Linked DNA regions of Homo sapiens: region 1 is linked to region 2. Evidence: fine-mapped QTL for protein levels in blood plasma. A gene starts in region 2. The other region holds a variant in brackets. All regions are shown on one strand. Distances are between the middles of the regions. Region 1 has its middle 24 kb from the start of ART5. Region 2 holds the start of ART5 (ADP-ribosyltransferase 5).

Evidence for each region. A credible set is the group of variants that fine-mapping cannot tell apart. PIP is the chance, under the fine-mapping model, that this variant and not a neighbour inherited with it causes the effect. The UK Biobank Pharma Proteomics Project read protein levels with antibody pairs (Olink). The fine-mapping took linkage between variants from a reference panel, not from the people measured, so its PIPs are less certain.
Region 1: its variant is the best candidate, but not a certain one, in a credible set for the plasma level of the ART5 protein (UK Biobank, PIP 0.71).

Annotation. Positions count from the first base shown.
Region 1 is chr11:3,613,654-3,621,973 of GRCh38, forward strand. It overlaps the pseudogene XNDC1CP. Among named protein-coding and RNA genes, the nearest start is that of ART5, 24 kb to the right of the region's middle. RefSeq lists enhancers at 1,883-2,407, 2,408-2,932. The variant G/A (reference allele first, on the strand shown) is at 3,858.
Region 2 is chr11:3,636,582-3,644,874 of GRCh38, forward strand. ART5 (ADP-ribosyltransferase 5) reads right to left here and starts at 5,411. Exons shown (of 4, transcript NM_053017.5): 1 at 5,225-5,411; 2 at 3,061-3,790; 3 at 2,422-2,454; 4 at 1,931-2,212. The coding sequence starts at 5,281. The coding sequence ends at 2,157. It also overlaps the pseudogene TRPC2. RefSeq lists an enhancer at 5,118-5,831 and a silencer at 5,971-6,020.

The sequences.
Region 1 (8,320 bases), 23 kb before region 2:
TGTGTACTATATTTCAATTAAAAAATAATAACCCAAGGGCAGTAATAGAATCTCTGTTCTCAGATGTTCAAAGGTTAAATGTCTTCCCTCAAGTCTGGTATATCAGGTGGGAAAACCAGGACCCCAACCCAGGGTTTCTAGGTCTATGTTAACTCTTCTACATTATTTTTGCTCTGATTTCAGGCTCCTTCAGCCCTTATGGCCTCTTACTAATAGCTGGTCTTTAACTGTTCTTTCTCACAGGCCTTTATCCAACTCTAATTCTTGGCCAAACAGGAGGGAGACAGCAAGAGCATGGCAAAAAAAAAACAGCACCGACCCCAGGCCCAAAGCAGTGGTGGCCAGGATAGTGGACAGTGCCCGATTTGTGCAGGTAAGATGCTTGGGCACAGGGAGTTGTTGTATGACAACTAGGCATTCCTTGAGGGAGGAATAGGAGATCTGGGGGTACTGCCAAGAAACATTTGAATTTGGAGTGCTGGCTTCTGTCATCTCTGCAGCTCTCAGGTGTGGAACTGTATTTTTAGTCAAGTGTAATTCAAGACAAGTGTGTACTGAGCACAGTGTGCCAGCTAAGCTGAGGAAGGGACATGGGCCCTGCCCTCAGGAGAAGAATGAAACCAAGCAATGTAAAACACGATCGGAGAGGGCCTAGAATTTCCTTCGTAACTTTTTCCTACGTGTCCAAATGCTGGTTCCTCTTTCAGTCTCTGTTCAAACGGTTCTACTTTGCCAAGTGTTCTCTTATCTGCCCAGATCATCTCCCGCAACTGAGCTTCTGCAGGATTATCTGATTCCCTTGGACTTAGCACTTCTCACTGTCTGCTGTGTATCAGTGTTATTTGTCTTCACAGCTTATACAGACTTCTTGGGGTGACATCCTGCCTGGGAGCAGGCCGTTTTGTTTACCTCCTTCTCTCCCCCATAGGTTCCTTCAGGATTGAGATTCTTCCCCAGCATGCTGCCACTTGTGGAGAGACCTCCCCACCTCACCCAGCTTCTCCCTCCTCATCATCATCTTCGTCCCAGTCTGTACTGTGGGTGTCCTCCCCAGAAAGTTCACCCCCTGTCTCCTGGGTTCCGTGCCCTATCTGCCAGTTGCGGTTCTCAGCAAGAGAAGTAGAAGAGCATGCCAGCATATGTGGGGACTTCCCTCAGGCGTGAGCCATGAGGTCCTGTGGTTTTGCCCCACCCTCTGTGACAGACTGGGACTGAATCGCTTGACAGCTGAGAAGAGCCGCTGAGGCCAAAGCTCCCTCTCTCCTCCTCTCCACTCATTCCCTCAGGACTCTGCCTGAGGGCACCTCTGTGCCTAGCCTGATCCCCATTCCCAGTTGTCAAGGCTTCTGTGACCATGGCACCTGATTCTCCTAAGGCCAGCTCTGTTCTTTTCCCCCTTGGAAGTCTCCTTGGAACTTTTGGGCCTTGGGACACCATCCAGAATGTCTTTCCCTCTGTGAGTGGTGCACATTCTCATGCCCATTTTCCTGAAAGGAAAACCGAGGCCCAGTGAAGAGCAAACGCTGCCTGACAGATAAAATCCTGTGGTGTGCTGGGAATGTGCGTGTGGATTTTGAGCACGAGGCTGACATCCAGCAACCCATGAACCGAGCTCTCAGTCTCCTTTGTGGGCTCCTGTCCTGGGCATAATCAGGTAATGGTGATGTGTGTGACACTAAGCAAGTTATTTATTTTAGCATCCAGAATTAACTGAGAGAAAAAAATCTCCCATCCTCCCGCTCACAGAGCTATGATAGGGACCAGATGGGTTAATGACTAAGGAGTAGTTACTAGGCTTGACTGTGGAACCTTGGGCATATCCCATTCCTTATCTACACAAGGAGGTGATTGGACCAGAAGGTGTCAAAGATTCCCTCAAGCTGTGATATTCCAAATTCTGTTCCCACCTTCTTTGAGCAAATATGTCTTCTCTTCCCTTTCCCAGAAGATTTCACTGTGTGGCACTAACACCGGTTCCCCTGGTCCCCAGGGTACAGAGCAGAGGGGGAGCAGCTGGTCCTGCAAAGAGAGGGCCCAGGTCAGAGTTTTGAATAGATAGAAAAGAGGGTGCTAGGCACAGTCAGGGAGAAGACTGAGCAGGAGTTCAGTCCTTCGGTTCCTGTCAGCACAGGTGCCAGCATAGGTGGGCACAGCCATGGACCCCATCACGGTAAGAAGCCTGCTCCCCTACCTTCTCCCATTCTGCTCCCATTTCTACCCATGAATAAAAGAAAAGATTGGCCCAGAGGCACTGCAGGGGCATCCTAGCTGCCAAGCAGATGGCTGACATCACTATGTAGGTGGGAGAAGAGCCCTTGGAACCCTGAGCTTGGGCCCAGAAGAGAAGAGCAGTGAGGATGGGGCCGGGCCTGGTAGAAGAGAGGGATGAGGCAGTGCCAAGGGGGAGAAATGCCCCCCAAAGCAGGGGAGGGCAAAGCGGGAGGATTGGTGAAGAAAGAGTATGTTGGGATCCTGCTGGGGCCCTGGTCAGAGCGGAGGGGCTTGGCAAAAGCCCACACAAAACCCTCCTGTGTGGACATGTCCGGGCCTGCCTGTGGGAGAGGCTCTAGGACTTTAAGAGGGAAGAGCAGCTGGGAGATGAAGTCAACAAGAGGGGAGCTGGGTCGGAACAGATCCTGTGCACCCGTATGTGGGGTTAGGCTGCCAGGGCAGCCCACCCCTGCTTTAACCTACCCTTGCTCAAGGTACCCACAGGTAGCTCTGCTGTTGGGGGGCTCCTGTGAGGGTAGAAGTCAAGCTGAGGAAGGGGCCCCCGGTCAGACCCACCTGAGGAAGGGGCCCCCAGTCTCTACCCAGTGGGGGAAGAATAGAAAGCCCCCACTGTACAGTGTCAATTTTCCTAACCTGAGAATCTACACAATAAAATGGTGAATGAGACAATATTTGCCAGTGTGTGTTTGGGACAAGGAAGAATATAATGGTGGCTGGATATAGAGGGTTAAGTGCTAGAACATGGAAGGGTGAAAGAGGCCCCAAAACAAAGGGAGTTGAAACTCAGGGTCCTAGCCTCTCCACTCCTTCGTCCGCCAACAGCCTAACTGGACTGAGATCGTGAACAGGAAGCTCAGCTTCCCACCTCCACTCCTGGATGCCATCCAGGAGGGCCGACTGGGCTTTGTGCAGCAGCTGCTGGAGTCAGAGGTTGAGGCCACAAGCGAGCAGTGGGCCAGGCTGGCCCCTGTGGAATGTGGAAGAGGCTGAGGACCGCTGCTGGAGGGAGGCACTCAACCTGGCCATCCGCCTGGGCCATGAGGCCCTCACCGATGTGCTGTTGGCCAGTGTCAAGTTTGACTTCCGCCAGATCCATGAGGCCCTGCTAGTGGCAGTGGACACAAACCAGCAGCAGTGGTGCGTCGCCTGCCGGCCCGGCTGGAACGGGAGAAGGGTCGCAAAGTAGACACCAGGTCTTTCTCACTGGCTTTCTTTGACTCATCAATTGATGGCTCCCGCTTTGCACCTGGTGTGACTCCCCTCCCCCAGGCCTGCCAGAAGGACCTGTATGAGATAGCACAGCTGCTCATGGAACAGGGCCACACCATTGCCCGGCCCCACCCGGTCTCCTGTGCCTGCCTCGAGTGCAGCAACGCCCGCCGCTATGACCTGCTGAAACTCTCTCTGTCCCGCATCAACACCTACCTTGGCATCGCCAGCAGGGCCCACCTCTCACTGGCCAGTGAGGATGCCATGCTGGCTGCCTTCCAGCTTAGCCGTGAGCTCAGGCGCCTTGCACGCAAGGAGCCTGAATTTAAGGTTGGTTTCTCATACTTCTCTCTTCCCCTGGTGCCCCATGTCTGTTCTTCCACCGGAGCATGGTTGGGCCTGTGGTCAGTGTTCTG[G/A]AAAGCTTGGAAGCCACAGAAAGAGGACAAGGCCTGGTCTCTGTTCTCAGGAAACCTCTAGTTTGATGGGGAGTCACAGAATCCCCCCTGAGGGGATTTCATTCTAATGGCAGAGAACAGCCACTCCAGAGGGGCCTAGTCTTATGCGGGAGGCACAACCCCCACTCCAGGGGAGCCCTGAGTGTCTCTGAGGGAGGAGAGAGAACAGAAACAACTAGAAAAACAGCTGGACAGACTTAGAGATGACGTTCAGTAGAATACATTACGTCTGAATACCTATTAGGTGTTCCCACCCGGAGCATTGTGTGTTGCGGCTCTCAAGCGTATGATCAGAGCAGAGAGAAGGCAGAAAGAGGGGACAAGGTGCTTCCAGGACGCTTGTCTTCATTCGGTGCCGCTGTGAATGGTGCTAACAGGGCTTCCAAAGCCCAGAAAACAGGTCAGGAAAGCCATAGCTGTTGTGTTCAGGGAGGACTCCTTGGAAGACGTAGCATTAAGCTGAGCTACAGAAGTGGGTGGTTTCATACAAGTGAAGAGGAGCAGGGAGGGTATTTGAGGTAGGACTGCAGTCCACGCAAAGGCTCTCAGGAAGTATACACGGTGATGAGTGAAGGGGAGACACTGCGCAGGAAGGACTGAGAATGCACGAAGCAGAACCTGGAGGCAGGTACTAGTGAGGGTCCTGGAATGCCGCCAGTCCAGTTTGTCCATCCCTCATCCCCTGACGGCTCCTGTGTGTCAAGCTAGACTCGATCCCCATCCCCAAGATGACCATTAGGTGGGGAAACCAACATGGATGTTAAAATGGAGGGCTAAGGAAGTTGTGACTGATGGTGGTGGAAGGATAGGAGAATGAAAAGCCCCCACTGCACAGCTAGCAGGAAAGGGCAGTCCTTTCCAAAGGACTTTCCCTCCGTTCTCACAGCAGCCTAAGAGACAGGCATAGCAGGAAGTATCATCCCCACTTTACAGCAGAGAAGCTGAGGCCTGGGAAGGGGAAGTACCTTGCCCAATGTGATACCACCTGAGGACAGTGCTGGGACTCAGACCTCACCTCCTGAAAGCTGTCCCTGGATGCTCTCTAGGGTGAGGGCCTCAAGTAAAACCCAGGATAGGATGGATAAATTGGAGCCAAGGACCGCCTTAGGCCAGGCACAGTGACTCACGCCTCTAACCCCAGCACTTTGGGAGGCTGAGACAGGAGGATGAGGAGGCCAGGAGTTCGAGACCAGCCTGGGCAACATAGCAAAATCTCATCTCTATTTATTTATTTTTTTAATTTTTTGGAGACAGAGTTTCACTCTTGTTACCCAGGCTAGAGTGCAGTGGCGCCATCTCAGCTCACTGCAACCTCTACCTCCTGGGTTCAAACGATTGTCCTGCCTCAGCCTCCCGAGTAGCTGGGATTACATGCCTGCCACCACGCCCAGCTAATTTTTGTGTTATTAGTAGAGACAAGGTTTCACCATGTTAGCCAGGCTGGTCTTGAACTCCTGACCTTAGGTGATCTGCCCGCCTCAGCCTCCCAAAGTGCTGGGATTACAGGCATGAGCCACCATGCCCAGCTATTTTTTAAAAATAATAAATAAGTGGCCGGGCGCGGTGGCTCACGCCTATAATCCCAGTACTTTGGGAGGCTGAGGCAGGTGGATCACCTAAGGTCAGGAGTTCCAGACTAGCCTAGCCTGGCCAACATGGTGAAACCCCATCTATACTAATAATACAAAAAAATTATTAGCTGAGCATGGTGGCGCACACCTTTAATCTCCCCTACTCAGGAGGCTGAGGCAGGAGAATCGCTTGAACCCAGGAGGCGGAGGTTGCAGTGAGCCAAGATCGCGCAATTGCACTCCAGCCTGGGTGACAAGAGTGAAACTCGTCTCAAATAATAATAATAATAATAATTAATAAGAACTGCCTTATTCATTTCTGCATCTCCTAAAATTGCCAACGCAGGTTCTCATATAAGGTAGGTGTTCCAATAAATTAATTAAATGAGCACATGAAGGGTGTAAGGAGTAGAAGTAAAAGTGGGACAAGAAACAGATTAGAAGGGGAAGGAAAAGAGACAGAAAAAATGACAGAAGGGTTTGGGTTGAAGTGACTTAGTGATGAGGTAGCAATAGCACTAGATAAGCGAAGTGACCCAGGAGGTATCTCATTAGAGCAGGAAGGATGAGGCCGGGTGCGGTGGCTCACGCTTGTGATCCCAGCACTTTGGGAGGCCGAGGCGGGCGGATCATGAGGTCAGGAGATTGAGACCATCCTGGCTAACATGGTGAAAACCCGTCTCTACTAAAAATACAAAAAAATTAGCCGGGCATGTGGCGGGCACCTGTAGTCCCAGCTACTCAGGAGGCTGAGGCAAGGAGAATGGCTTGAACCCGGGAGGCGGAGTTTGCAGTGAGCTGAGATTGCAGCACTGCACTCCAGCCTGGGCGACAGAGCGAGACTCCGTCTCAAAAAAAACAAAAAAACAAAGAAGGATGGGTGAGGTGGCAAAGGAAAAAGAAATCAATGCCCTAGTGACACCAGACATAGGAACTGATGGTGCAGGGGCAGGACAGAGGTGGCCCAGGCCCACTACTGGTGGGCGTGTGGGTAGGAAGGAGTGGGCTGATTTAATGGGGTTGGATCCACAGGGTGGTAGGCATACACGGACCTGCTTCTCTACAGCCTGAGTACATTGCTCTGGAGTCACTGAGCCAGGACTATGGCTTTCAGCTGCTGGGCATGTGCTGGAACCAGAGTGAGGTCACTGCAGTGCTCAACGACCTGGCCGAGGACAGCGAGACTGAGCCCGAGGCTGAAGGCCTGGGCCTGGCCTTTGAGGAAGGCATCCCCAACCTGGTGAGGCTGCGACTGGCTGTCAACTACAACCAGAAGCGGGTCAGCTGGGCCCCACCTATATCCCCTCCCTGTCCTTTTCTCTTGCCCTGCCACCTCTAGGTCTCCCTGACCAGCCCTAAGCAACTCCTTTTCCTGCCCTCGAGACCCTCTCAGGCCTTGGTCCTGAGCACCCTTCTGTCTAAGCCCTTGACCCTGTGGGTCCCCTCCCTTCTTACATTCAATCTAAGCCCCTAACCTCTCCCCAGCCCTTGGAAGACCCATTACCCACCAAGACCTCACCTTCAGACCAGGACATCTGGTCTTAGACAGCTTTGTCTCTGACCTGCTGAGTTACTTCAATCCAGTCTTTCTGTTGTTCAGTTTCAGTACATCACTCTATAAAGCAAGATAAGACTAGATCTCTCAGGCCTTAAATATCCCCCAAAAGGTTCTATTATTCCCTGTCTCCTCAGACATCCTCCCCTCTAAGCTAAAGACAGGCTCCTTGTTTAGCCTCCCCCAGCTCCTTGCTCCTCACTCTCATCCACCCTCAACATCCACCAGGAACTTAACCAAAAACCTTCCTTCATAATGGCTCCCCTGGCCCTGTCTCCCAGTACAGCAAACCCCAGCTTCCCTCTTCTGCCCTCCTCAAGATCATCCAGGCTGATGTCCCACACCTCTAAGAAGGCAGGGGACCCTGGGGGTTCTGGGTCTTGGGTCCCCAGTTCTACCCACCACTGATTAACTTAGACTCAAGAATGTAGGGTCCAGAGAGTTCAGGAAAATCTTTGAGTTCAGTTTCCCCTCCATAGACCGAGGCCTAGAGAGAGATGGGTCTGACCACGGTCATCTGACAAGCGAGTTGGCTGGTGTGGGGAGAAAAGAAGGATTGTTCGACCTCTGTGGCAGGGAAGGAAGGGCTGTGTACCCAACTGGCTCCCCCATCCTCATCCTTGCCTGGTGGCCTCCCACTCTGCTTATGCCCCATCTCTGCTTAGTTCGTAGCACACCTCATCTGCCAGCAAGTCCTGTCCTCCATCTAGTGTGGGAACCTGGCTGGTTGGCGGGGAAGCACCACCAGCTGGAAGCTCTTTGCTACCTTCCTCATCTTCCTCACCATGCCCTTCCTCTGCCTTGGCTACTGGCTGACACCAAAGTCCCAGGTACTAAGAATAAGATTAATGATAACTGTCACTTATTGAGCACTTGTTTTATGAGGCCCTGGGCTAGACACTTGGTGAATATAACTTTGTGTGAATGTTTCCATTAAGTAGCTGCAAGTGTAGCCCTGAGGAAGGCATTCTGCTTCAGTGGTACAGGGGAGCAACCTGAGGCACAGGGAAGGGCAATGCTCTTTTTGTCAAAAGTACACAGGAAATAGTGGAGTGAGGATTTAAACCGAAGTCTCTCTGCCTCCAAAACCTTAATCCTACTAACAGCCCTATACTCGCCTAAAGAGAGGCCCACCCCAGCTACAAATTCTATGGGAGCCCTTCATCCAACCAATATGTCCTTGAGACCCAACTGTGAGCCAAGCATGGTGCCTGGCACTGGGGTTATCATGAAGAAAAGCCCTGTTCCTGCTGAGCAGGTGAGGAATGGGGAGAGGGGTCTTCCAGGAAGCAGGAGCA
Region 2 (8,293 bases):
GCCCTGTCTTGGAGGGAGAGACGGGGCACTGTAGGGCAGGGACACACGGGAAGCTTTCAGTCTGGTGAGGAAGAGAAACCATCACAGCGGGCATGAAGTGCAGCTAAGAGAGACGCGAATTGCCATGGGCGCCTGAAGGGAGAAGGAGCACGTCATTTTGAGAGGCTCATGAGAAGGCAGAAGGATAGAGTAGCAGAAGGGACAAAGGGGGTGGGATCTGAACTGGGCCCTGAAGGATGGGGTGAGCTGGCTGGCCGTAGACTCGGGAGAGGGCAGGCAGGTGAACGCACAAATGTCTACGCAGTCCAGTAAGCTTTCCCCGTGGCTTGTCATCTTTCTCTGGCCCCCAGACTTTCCTTCTTTCCAGCTCCTCAGCTACTCCCTCCCACCCCCGATCAGATTCACCTGCCCCAGCTTCACCCACCCACCTGACCCCTAGCCCACAAACCCGTTCCTCACTTCTTCCAGTTCTCCCTCAGGAATCCTGGATAGGGCAACCCCTGGGGTACTGTAAAGGGTAAAAGGGGTATAGGGCAGGCTCATCCTCTGAAAGGCCCCTTGGTACTCCACCTCCTCCAGATCTGGGCAACAGACTCACAGAGCTGACCAAGACCATATCTCGACTGCAAAGCGAGGTAGCCGGTGTGCGGTGAACTCTGGCAGAGGGAGGGACGCCCCGGCCTCCCGACGGTGCCAGCGTCCTCAGTCACTACATCACTCAAGTGCACAACAGCTTCCAGAACCTGGGGCCTCCCATCCCTGAGACCCCAGAGCTGACAGGGCCTGGGATTGTGAGGACCCAGGAATCATCAGGAACCGGGCTTCAGGACACTGGAGGGGTGAGGACTCTGGCTTCCGGAGAGTCTGGCCCCTGCTCCCCAGCTCATGTGCTAGTTCATAGGGAGCAGGAAGCAGAGGGGGCTGGGGACCTGCCCCAGGGGGAGGATTCGGGGACTGAGAGGAGGTCCTGATACAGTGGAAGAGTCCCTTCTTCTGTTGCTGAGCGTGGTAGCCTAGGAGGGTGAGGGTGGGGGGCCCCTTGGGAGGAGCCTGTGCTGCTTTTCTTGCTTCAATAAAGTTTCTGCTCTGGATGTGAGAGGCCTCCAGGCTGTGTGAGAATCTCTGTCTCTTGATGTTTTGAGGTCCTCCCTCTTCTTTCCCCTGAAATGGACCCTTGTGGGAGCAGGGCAGAGAGAAATGACTTGCTCTGTGTTCCCAAGTATCTTGGGCTTGGGATCCTACTTTGAGTTTCCTCAGATCTTTTATGGACAGAGTTCTGGACCAGGAGGCAGGAGACCGGGGAGGCGGGAGGCCGGGGTTCAATGGGAACCCTCTGACCAGTTGCTTCCTTCCTTGGCTTTGCATTCCTCACCTGACAAGTGGGGCTGAGGAATCACCTGCCTGCTTTCCTGCCTTCATGGTTGTCGTGAGGACCCTCTAGCTGTTCTAGCTTCTGGATTTGCAAGTTAGAGTGTTACACAGGTCTGCACAGGAGACCGTGTTAATAATAACAAGAAGTTATTATTATTGTTATTTTTGAGACGGAGTCTTGCTCTGTCGCCCAGGCTGGAGTGCAGTGGCGCGATCTCGGCTCATTGCAAGCTCCGCCTCCCGGGTTCACATCATTCTCCTGCCTCAGCCTCCCAAGTAGCTGGGACTACAGGTGCCCGCCACCACGCTCGGCTAATTTTTTTGTATTTTTAGTAAAGACGGGGTTTCACCGTGTTAGCCAGACTGGTCTCGATCTCCTGACCTCGTGATCCACCCACCTCAGCCTCCCAAAGTGCTGGGATTACAGGCGTGAGCCACCTGCTCCTGGCCCCAAGAAGTTTTTTTTTTTAGTCCCTCAGTCAGTCCCTCAGCCCAGCAAGGCCACAGCGGGGCAGAAGGTCTAGTCTCATGGAATAAACCAATCATAAAATTCCATGTCTCCACACTGCAATACCATTTAATCACGTAGCTACCTCAATAAAACTCCATGTCTCCACATTGCAACACCGTTCAATCAAGTGGCTGCCTCAGTACTTTCCTTGCTTGTCCCAGGAAGTCCCCATCACATAGCAGAGTTCCCTCAGCCCTGCTGTGGCCTCCCCAGGCCAACATCCTGGTTGGGGAGAAGGCTGCTAGGGCTGGGTCCGGAACCATGTTCTTGCTTCTCAAGGCTGCTGGAGGTGCCTCTTCGTCATATGAAGGTCACCCGTTCCCAGGGCTCCTAAGTGGCAGATGTTGGACTTTCAGGGCCCAACCCCTGAGAGCTGGAACTCTCCAGGGGCCAAGAGCAGAGTCTTCCAGGGGGGCAGAGAGGAGGCCCCCTCAGATTGTGACCCTAGCTGCACCCCTGCTGAAGGGAAAAGAGGAGGAAGGGGTCAGCAGGGTGAGGGGGAGTCAAAGCAGCTGAAGGAGGATGGAAGGGCAACTCACCTGGCGCAGACACACAGCCCCGCCTCTTCTCCCCTGCAACAGACAGCAGGGTGAGGCCTCCGCGTGGACAGACTCGCACCCAAACTGCCTGGCCCACCAGGCCCTGGCAGGGCCATTTCCCTTCTCAATCTATCTTTCCCTTCACCTAAAGGGAAACTTCTGATTTCCCTTCCTCCTCCGTCCTCCAGGAACTCTTTCCAGATTGCCTTTCCATCCCTCTTCCCACCCAAGACCCAGTCACTCTTCCATCTCTCCCTGCCTTAGCACTTGGGAATGGCACATACGTGCCCTGTCAGCCCCATCGAGCCCAGGGCCCCCCTGAGACCTGAAGCAGTCCCCTTGGCTCTTTCTGCTGCTTGCTAATCTCCTTAACCAGGTTCTTTTGGTCTATTAGACCATGTAGCAGATGGACCCTTTTGAGGACATATAGAATCATCTAAGAATGTTCACGAATCTAGAAAACACTTATAGGACCCCAAAAAACCTGAGTCACAGAGGACAGCAACTCCAGCTGACTTCCAGCCCTCATTTCCCCTTTAACCAAGTGGGTCTCCCGAAGGCCCCGGGGATTATTGTGTAAGGACATCCTGGCTTATTTCACCCACACTGCCAGTCCTGCTTCCCCCATGCACAGCTTACCACCCAGATAGGCGCAGTTAAAATGGCTACAGGTCTGATTATAGCTCCAGAGAGTCACCAAGCTCTGGGCTCCATCCTGAGAGAATCTGGTAACCAAAAAGACTTCATGGGGGGGAATCAGCACCTCGCGCTCCTTGGGAAAGACAGAGAAGGCCTGTATAGGGGCCCCAAAGCAAGTTGTTAGAGAGAAGAGGGTGGCATTACCAAATCTGTGGGCCACTGCCTTATCCAGGGAGCTGGAGGCAAACTGGCCCAAGCGGACAGAGTCTCCCAGCCTCTTGGGTTCAAAGCGAAGGCTGCCCACACCTCGGAACACCACCTCCCCAGGTCCCCTGCTGCAGCCCCCACTGCCTCGCAGCAGCTGCAGGGCCCGGATCAGGTAGAAATGCAGGGCCTTGAAGGGAAAGTGCCTCATGTAGAGCTCCCGGGAGCCTCCGCCCGTCCGCACGGCCTGATTCAACTCCCAGTACAAGGTGTTCGATGAGTTGGTGTAGACCATAATGGCTATTCCATTCTGGGCTTTGAAGCCAGGGGGCAAGGTAAGCCCTCGACGCTTGTCCTCCCAGGTCTCCTGGGCTGCCTCCCAGGATTCCCGCAGCAGGGCATGGTGGGCCATTTCCTCCTTTAGCAGGGGGGCTGCCTTCTCCTCCATCTCCTCTGCACAACCCACATAGGTATCGTCAAAGGTGTCTGGAGCCAGGCCCAGGGGCAGGATGGGAACAGCCTGGGCCTGTGGAGCAAAAGAGGTGCCACACCGAAAAGAGCATAAGTTCAGAGCACTGGACATGGGTCCTGGGGGCAAACCCATCCAGAAACACAGAATCTCATTTCTATCCCTAAATATCAGGTATATGCAATTTGGCAAGGGCCCAATAAGAGGCTTAAATAACACAGGCACTGGAGTCAGTCAGACATGGACTGAAATCTTTTTTTTTTTTTTTTTTTTTTGATGGAGTCTTGCTCTGTTGCCCAGGCTGGAGTGCAGTGGTGAGATCTCGGCTCACTGCAAGCGCCACCTCCCAGGTTGGAGTGATTCTCCCACCTCAGCCTCCCAACTAACTGGGATTACCTGTGCATGCCACCATGCCTGGCTAATTTGTTTTTGTGTTTGTTTCTTTGAGACGAAGTCTCGCTCTGTTGCCCAGGCCGGAGTACAATGGCACGATCTTGGCTCACTGCAACCTCTGCCTCCCGGGTTCAAGCAATTCTCCTCTCTCAGCCTCCCAAGTAGCTAGGATTACAGGTGCGCAATACCACGCCCAGCTAATTTTTTGTATTTTTAGTAGAGACAGGGTTTCACCATGTTGGTCAGGCTGGTCTCGAACTCCTGACCTCAAGTGATCCACCAGCCTCAGCCTCCCAAAGTGCTGGGATTACAGGAGTGAGCCACCGCGCGCAGGCTGAAATCTTGACTTTACCACCTATTAGCTGTGAGGCCTTGGGCAAGTGTCATAACTTTTCTGGACTTGAGGATACTTCCAACCTCACAGTTATTATGAAGACAGCATAAAGAGCATTACTTCTGTACAACCTAAAAGGGGTCATCCTGTCATTAGAAAGGTTCTTGCAGTCGGTGGGAGGTGGGACTAGATGACTATCAAGCACTTTTCCGGCTGTAAGATCTGGCAGGCAGGTGATGTGCAAATATTACACACAGCCAGTGTCCAGCTGCCTAACCCCCAGCCCCATTCTCCTCGGGCTCTCTTTCCCTCTCATCCAGCAGGAAGCCCTTGCAGGTAGGTGCTCAGCCACCACACCAAATCACTGTGAGCTCTGAGACGCCTGAGTCCTCCCCTGCTCTGTACCCACATTTGGGGTAGGGGTGGTGGGGAGGCCAAGCCTTGGTTGGGACGGGCTGCCAGGACTGCAGCACACAGGTAACCCAAGGAGGCTTTGCCGGGCTGTGCCTGCGCTGGGAGATGAGAGGTGGGGAGGAGAACGTTGGAGGCATCCAGAGAGGGATGGAGATGGGGGTTCTAGGAGACAGAATGGGAACTTGGGGCTCCCTGCAGAGATGGAGGTTCCTGAGAGGAAGAGAGTTAAGAGTGGAATCCTAGGGAAGAGTCCCTGGGAGAGGGATGTGAGGAGTCAGCCCCGGGTCCACTTCCTCAGGGTCTGTCCCTTAATGTCCCCCTTGGGGCTAGGAGATGGTTCCTGGAGTTACCTGCCAGGTGTGGAGGCCGAGGCTGCCGAGGGCGATCATCAAAGCCGCCAGCGCCATCCCTGGAGGAGACGTGAGGGCCAGGGGTCCGGGTGAGGGCGGGACCAGAGGTGCTGGAGTCCTGGTTTCGAGGGGCTGGAGGCAGATCTGGACCCTGTCTCCAGGCGCACGGGATCCCGGGTCCAGGATTAGGGCCCCGGCGGGGCGTGGGCGGGGCCTGGGAGTTTATTGCCCGCCCCCCGCCCCAAGTCTCCGCCCCCGACTCCCCACACCCCTTCCTCAGAGCCTCCAGTCTGGGGACCTTTCCGAGACTGTAAAGGCGGGGCCGCAGTTTGGCTCCGCCTGAGAGGGGAGGGCCGGGGGCGGAGGACCCACTTGAAGGCTGCGGAAGCCGCCAGCGGGAGGGAGCGCCGAGGGCTCTGGCGGGCGCTGCGCTGTCCCCGGAGGAGTCCGGAGTCCGGCTGAAAGCAAAGGTTCTCGAGGCTAACTGTAGCCCCCGCGCTGGTAACCCGACACCCCTTTCCCAGCGCCGCACGCGGGGCCGGGAGCGGGCGCGCCAGGGCAGGGACTGAGGAGCAATTCCCTTTCTCAAGGCCTGCGGGGTCTTTCTGCGGGACCCTCTTTGGCTGTGAGTGATGGGGAGGAAACTTGTGAGACTCGGCCTCTCCCTCAGGCGGGCCCTGACCCGGTCGGCCCCTGGTCCCCGGCCCACCAGGCCAGGGGCCCCGCGGGGGTCCCGCCGGCCGAGAGGTCGCCCCCGGAGCACTGCGATTTGCATACAGTTTGCATTTGGCCCACACCCTGGGCCACGTGCTCCAGCATCTGAGCAGCGCCCACTCCCTGCCTGCTCTGGGCCCTCTCCCCATTCGCCTTCAGTGGGGTTGGGCCAGAGACAGAGCCCTTGGTCGCAGATCCACAGGGTCCGGTCTCGCCCCTCCCCCAGACCGCTCTCGTGGCCGCTCAGACTCAGGTGACCCATGTTTGTAAACACTGGCCTTTCCCCCACCTCCTCTGGGCTTATCTATAAATAACCTGGCTCTGAGTTTTGGATGCCCCGTCAGAGGTCATGGGAGAAGGGGCCAGCGGAGGAATTGGTAACTCAGGGAAGAGCTTCCTAGCAGCCAGAGCCAGGAGGAGGTGGGGTTGTCACCCCTCCTTCCCCCAGCGGCCGGAGGGTCGCCGAAAGCTAGGATTTGAGAAATGCTGCCTGCTGGGGCTGAGGTGGGCACGAAAGATTAGAGCTACCCAAAGGAATCCATCCTGGTCTGGCTCATTAATTTTCCCCATCCCTGTCCCCCCATCCCCTCAGAGTGTCAGCCAAATAAAAAGTTTCCTCCACCTAGAATCCTGCTATCTCCCAGAATCCTTTCTGTAGACCAAACGGGAAGACATACGGTGGGTCCAGGCTTGGAGGAGGGTGGGGAGGGAGGTGCTTCTGAGTGCTTGTTAGAAAAACAGCTCCAGGGCAGGGCGCAGTGGCTCCCGCCTGTAATCCCAGCACTTTGGGAGGCTGAAGTGGGAGGATCACGAGGTCAGGAGTTCGGGACCAGCCTGGCCAACAAAGATTAGCCGGGCGTGGTGGCAGGGGCCTGTAATCCCAGCTACTTGGGTGGCTGAGGCAGGAGAATCGCCTGAAACCGGAAGGTGGAGATTGCAGTGAGCTGAGATGGAGCCACTGCACTCCAGCCTGGGCAAAAGGGCGAAACTCCATCTCAAAAAAAAAAAAAAAGAAAAAAGAAAGAAAGAAAGAAAAACAGCTCCAGGACAAGTTCTTTTGCCCCCTTCTATGAGTCTAGCCATCCCAAAGCCCTCCCAGATTCTAAAATAAGGAATCATCCTACCGTTTCCCATCATGGTGAAAAACAGCATTTGCCTATATATCCTGCCTGCCCACTCTCTGGAGGAAGTTGAGTGTTTGCAGTTGCTTGAAAAGATACCACCTGAGGACAGCTTGGCCTGCTGGGATGACCCGAGACCAGATGTATTGGAATCACTGCTTTGTCCCTCTCCACCCTCTGGCTTTGGGGGATTGCTTCTCCCATCCCAGGACCTGGAACCCAAAATAAGGCCCCAAGAGATGGATTCAAATCTAGTCATTGGGGGCCGGGTGCGGTGGCTCACACCTGTAATCCCAGCACTTTGGGAGGCCGAGGCAGGCGGATCACGAGGTCAAGAGATCGAGACCATCCTGGCCAACATGGTGAAACCCCATCTCTACTAAAAATACAAAAATTAGCTGGGCGTGGTGGCAGGCGCCTGTAGTCCCAGCTATTCAGGAGGCTGAGGCAGGAGAATCGCTTGAACCCGAGAGGCAGAGGTTACAGTGAGCCAAGATTGCGCCACTGCACTCCAGCCTGGTGACAGAGCGAGACTCCATCTAAAAAAAAAAACTAGTCATTGGGCAGGGATCCTAAGTATAGCATTAAGAAGTCCTGCAAGATCACTGGTAAGTCAGAGCTGGAACTGGGACTCAGAATACAGCCTCCTTAGTTCGAATCTCTCCTGGCACCTTAGCTAAGTCTCAGTGTTTGTGTGAAAGGTACAAAATCTAAGGAGACGCTCTCTGAGGTCGGGGTGCTGAAGCTTCCTCCTCTCTTCCTCCTCCTTGGCTGACCAGAGTACAGGACCACAGCCAGTGAGGAGGCAGTTGTCCCAGCCTGGATCCCCAGTGCTTCAGTCCACCTCCTCTCTGGCTTCAGGGATTCCCTTTTTTGTGGGAAATGTAGCAGGAAGAGCCTCAGACAAAACCCCTCAGATGCTGAGTTAAAGAAGGAAGGGGTTTATTCAGCTGGGAGCATCGGCAAGACTCCTGTCTCAAGAGCTGAGCTCCCTGAGTGAGCAATTCCTATCCCTTTTAAGGGCTCACAACTCTAAGGGGGTCCGCGTGAGAGCGTCGTGATCGATTGAGCAAGCAGCGGGTACGTGACTGGGGGATGCATACACCGGTAATTAGAAGGGAACAGAACAGGACAGGGATCTTCACAGTGCTTTTTTATACAAATAACCGATTAGGTCAGGGGTCAATCTTTAACTGCCAGGCCCAGGGTGTGGCGCTGGGCTGTCTGGCTGTCT